2 separate regions of the Homo sapiens genome follow, and region 2 is linked to region 1. A link means that fine-mapping ties the variant in region 1 to the expression of a gene that starts in the linked region. Tissue or cell type: whole blood. Region 1 holds a variant in brackets; the other region holds the start of a gene. All regions are shown on one strand. Distances are between the middles of the regions.

What was found. PIP is the estimated chance that this variant, and not a neighbour inherited with it, causes the effect.
Region 2: it holds the start of ZNF76, and the variant in region 1 is fine-mapped to the expression of ZNF76 in whole blood (INTERVAL, PIP above 0.99).

Annotation. Positions count from the first base shown.
Region 1 is chr6:35,184,656-35,187,155 of GRCh38, forward strand. No RefSeq gene overlaps it. Among named protein-coding and RNA genes, the nearest start is that of SCUBE3, 28 kb to the right of the region's middle. RefSeq lists silencers at 1-282, 677-971. The variant G/C (reference allele first, on the strand shown) is at 1,133.
Region 2 is chr6:35,258,725-35,261,224 of GRCh38, forward strand. It overlaps ZNF76 (zinc finger protein 76), which reads left to right and starts at 1,011. Exons shown (of 14, transcript NM_003427.5): 1 at 1,011-1,117. SCUBE3-AS1 (SCUBE3 antisense RNA 1) reads right to left here and starts at 731. Exons shown (of 4, transcript XR_001744102.2): 1 at 566-731. RefSeq lists silencers at 994-1,113, 1,124-1,443.

The DNA.
Region 1 (2,500 bases):
ATGTCTGCCCTCAAAGGTCCAACAGTCTAAGTGTCCTCAGGCTGAACACCCTGGACTTGTCATTGACTAATCGTTGATTCTTATTTCTCCAGCCAGTCAGCCACCACGACCTGTTGATTTTCTGCATTTAGAACCTCCTGCACCTACCTGTCTTTTTCTCTGCATCATTCTCAGCATGGCACATAACCGGGGGCTTGGCAAGTGTGGGCACGATGCAGAGATGTTGGGAACTATTGTCAGGGATGCCCAGCTGGGCCAGGAGACACCACCAGGGGCCTTCCCTGGGGGTGGTAACAGTTTTCTTTTTTTTTAATCAGTTAGGACTCTTGTTTACCCTTTGTACCCAGCGCTAGCCCAGTGCCTGACACATAGTAAGCACTCAAAAATAATCTGGGGGTTTGATTAATCAATTGATTAATTAACTTGATACACACACACACATGCATGCATAGAGATGGCCTCTCTTTTTGCCGTCCATTCACATACACATTACCTTTCATTACAGAGACACCAGGTTACAAAGAAAACCCTTAAGAGTTTGCTGTTGACTTGAGCCGTGTCACTTGTAAGAAGGACAAAATATGTATGTGGTCAGTTCGAATCCCAGGCCTGAAACTGGAAATAAACTAACCCCTTGTTGAAATCGCACAGGAAACCTGAAGGGAGGTGGGGGAGACGGGTGGCAGGAAAAATGCCTGAGATCTTACACAACTTGTGCAAACAGAATGACAGGGCTAGGCAGCCCTGGGAGTCCAGGAATTAATAGCCCTGCCGAGGCTCCGGGGCTCTGGAGATGGAGCTATTTAAAGTCAAGAAATGTCATTTCCACCCACAGAGCCTGCCCCAGTTGCATTATCTGGAGCCTCTTCAGCCCCGGTGTTCTGGCAGCCTCCTGGCCTGACCTCCCAGTGGCGGGACCACGGGGCTCAAGGCCAACCTGTCATCACTGCTCTGTTGGGAGATTGTGGGGGGGTGGGGGGGGCTGACCTTAGCCTCTCCCAGTTCCTCCTCTTCCTCTTCTCTGCTCAGGCCCAGGACAAGCTGAGTGGACACTCAAGGCCCAGCTCACCCCTCTGCAAAGGCTACTGAGAGTACTAAGGTTGCTGCCCACATACAGGGGCCAGCCAGCCTG[G/C]CCAGCAGGGTAGGTCTGGGGTAGTGGATGGGGAGAGATGGGGTGTGGAGACATAGACCCTTGCCCACCAGAATCATACTCTTGTCCTGCTATATGACCTCAGGCCATTTGCTTAACCTCTCTGGACCCTCATTTCTTTACCTGGACTGGGAAATGAGAGTCTTCCTCTCCTTGCCCTATTTCTGGGGAAGGCCACAGGAGATCAGAGAAGGGATGTCTTTTGAACCTTTAGGAAGAAAAGCACCATAGAAATCCAGGTATTACCTGCAGCTCCTCCTCCCCTCCCTTCCAGGCAAGGTAATCCAGGAATGCTTCCTCCGGAGGCAAGAAGGCAGGAAGCTGGCATTTGAAGTGTCAGTGGGCTGTAGACTGTGTGACAGAGCCATCCAGCCCCATGCTCCCAGGAGCTGAGGTTCACATTCTTGCCAGGCACCTAAGGCAAGAACTCCCTCACATCCTGTCTGCTCTGATCTTACATATCTGTTCTGGCTGATGTTGCTGCAGTTTTGGGGAGGTGGGGGACTTAGAAGCCCAAACAATGTGCCAAACCAAGTTTTGCCCTGCAGGTGTCTAATGCCTGGGGATTGCTGGGCTTTTTTCCTGAAGCTGAGGAGAAAGCACAGTGGTGCTAAATGAGTTTCCAAGAGAGGTGTAATGAAATACCAGGGACACCCCAGCCCAAAGTCTTCCTGAACTCATTGCTGCTGCCACCCAAGGGGTAAAAGGGAGCTAGGAAATGTCTTTTTTTTTGTCTTTAGGAAACAGCAATGGAAATGCAGCCTTCTACTCTCTTAAGCCCCCTTCTCTTGTCTTATCTTAGAACTTGCGTGAAAGCTATGGATATTTTCCTCATTTAATTTTTTAATTTAATTATTCTAGACACACTAAAAGGTATGTATCAGAATAGTCTAGATTATGCTGCAGTAAAAACCCCAATATCTCAGTGGCTTAACACACACTTCTGCTTCTGCTACTTACTGCTTCTCACTTCTGCTACATGCCCTTTGTGGATGAGCAGGGGACTCTGACCATTGAAATCACTTAGGGACCCAGGCTGGTGGAACAGCCACCATCTGAAGCACTGTCAGAAGCAAAAGAGATGCCGGGCACAGTGGCTCATGCCTGTAATCCCAGCACTTTGGGAAGCCAAGGCAGGAGGATCACTTGAGGCCAAGTTCAAGACCAGCTTAGGCAACATAGCAGGACCCTGTCTCTAAAAAAATTTTTTTTAATTAGCCGGGTGTGGTGGTGTGCACCTGTAGTCTCGGCTACTCAGGAGGCTGAGGCAAGAGGATCACTTGAGCCCAGGACTTGGAGGCTGCAGTGAGCTGTAATTGTGCCACTGCACTCCAGTCTGGTGACAGGGTA
Region 2 (2,500 bases), 74 kb after region 1:
CACCCAGTTCCTCTCCTAAAAGGCAATCTTTACCAGTTCCTTCTCTAACGCCCCTCCTTTTTAATTTGATTTTTTACCGAAAGCTCGCTCCCTTTTAATTTTCCCTCAGGTTTCTGAAAATTTCCCAATCGCAGCCCCTCCCAGCAGGGAAATAGTAAAGGGGCTTGGTTTTTATGTTCAACCCAAAGCAAGCCTACAAAAGGGAGTAGTCGGTTTCGAGCCTGACGGTGGAGCTGACGCGGGAATGAGAGAGAACCTGAGAAGACCGCCAGGGCGCCCTCCCTGCGGAGGCGAGTCCCTCACCGCCCCTCTACATCGTCCTTTTCAATAAGGAGCTCTTAATACCTGCAACTGCTTCCTTCAAGGGGTGGCTGGAAGATCAGTAGGCAAGGCCTGCGGACTGCGCACCTTAAAGCGCTTCGGGACCGTAAGACAGTGAGTGCTGAGCGCGCGGCCGGGAAGAAGCCTGGAGGCTCTGAGCTCGGAGGACAGAGACCGAAGCCCCAGGGCCTGCGTCCCTCACAACCTGCGCCTCCTGTCCTCCCGCGCTACTCCCGAAGCGCACCTTCTCGCCCGCAGGCCGCAGAAGTGATGACGCAAAGCCCTCGGGGCCTCCGCCACCTCCTCACGCTTCTGCTGGACCGAATCCTTGGAATGGACAGGTAGCGGTTCCCGATTGCTATAGCGACGACCCGGCTCCGAGCCGCGCCCAGGCCCTGACCCGGGCGTCGTGACGTCAGCACGCCTTCCCTGGGCGCTCAGCCTCGCTGGCCATGCGTCACCCCGGCCTTGGTGGGGGCGGGGCTCCGAAGAGCTCGGTTCAGATCCCGGCCGCCTGGGCTCCAGGAGCCCCGGAACCAGGATAAGTTGGATGGCTGCCGCGGCGAAGCGGGGGGCGGGGTGGACCGTGCCCGGTATTTTCTATACGGGTTCCGGGGCCCGGTAGAGGCGCGCCAAGAGGAAAGGAAAGTGCGGCGGCCCTGGAACCTGGATATCGCGCGAGGCAAGCTGCGCGCGGGCGGGCGGGCTATGGCGCAGGCGGGTTGTGGGGCCGGCGCTGGTGGCGGGGCCCGGTGCATGGCGGTCTGTCGGCGGAGTCGCCCTCGGGGGCTGTCAGGTTGGTGGCTGCGGGAGGAGTGGGCCAACCATGCCCAGGGCGGGAGGCCGGGCGGGCGCAGGACCCCGGGAAGGTCCCGAGCCCGGCGTGCCCACCTCCCTCCGGCCCTAGCAGGGCGGCCTGGCCGCTGGACCGCGGCCGGGCCCCCTCCCCCACCCAGGGTCCCTGCCCCTCTTTTCCGCCTTGCGGCTCCTCCCCCGTGACTCCCAAACCTCACCCCGTGACGGCGCCCGCCTCCACCCTTGTGACCCCACACCCCACCCACTGACCCCAAGACCTCACCAGGTAACCGTTGGTTATTATTCATTGGCTGCTAACCCAGGAATTTCCCCAGCACTTCTCAGAGACCCACCAACCAGTGACTCCCTCAGTTTTAATCCGGTGACTCACATGACCCTGAGATCCCCACACTCCTCCTTAGTGACCCCCAAACCTGGGTAACCCTCCTGGCCCAGTAACCCCCCCGATTCTACCTTGTGTTCCCCACAAACTCGGTGACTCCCCTCAAAACTCTGCTGGCGACTCCTAAGCCCTACTCCAATAGTTTTCCACGCACTCACCTTGTACACAACCCTCAGTATCTTTATCCTGTAGCCGTATGACCCTCGTTCCACGTCTGCCTTTATCCTAAAATCACCCCCACTGGCATCTCTCTCTGCGATCCCAGCCCTTCAGTGTCAATCAGCACATGACTTACAAGCGTCCAGCACCTTTCTGGTGCTAAGGAGGATATAGAGATTAATATGAAGTAGTAATAATTGGAGGCATCAGAGAATTCTGGATCAATCCAGAATCCAGTCAATCCAGTGTGTGGTCCCAGCTCTGTCACTGCTGTGCTTTAGGGACCTGTGAGAAGTCCCCTCCTCAGTCTGGACCTCAGTTTCTCATCATGACTGTGATGAGGTTGGGTTAGATGATCTTTGAGTTTCCTTCCGTCTGTGAAATTGTGAAATTATGCAGTTCTCAGTCAAGATAATAATTTTTTGCAATCATTTTTGTACCCCACCCTGGAAATTTCCTCTTGTAACCTCATCCCAGGATCTGCTTGCATCATGAACCTTACTCCCTCATTCCCGGATCACCCTCTTCACTCTTCATAGTGCATACCCATTTCCCTTGATCAGGCCCCATCAGTTAACATGTTTGCAAAGCAGTATAGCAGAGTGCTTCATTTGGGGGCATTGAGTTCATAACAAACCTAGGTTCCAGACTGATTCTGGCCCTTCAGCTATGGGACTTTTGGTATATTATTTAGCCTGTCTTAACTTCAGTCTCCACCTCTGCGAAGGGAGAAAATAGTAGTGCCTGACATAACATATGTAAAGCACCGGGCACCATGCCTGGCTCATGGGAACCCTTAGCATAAGCTGTTGTTAGAAATGA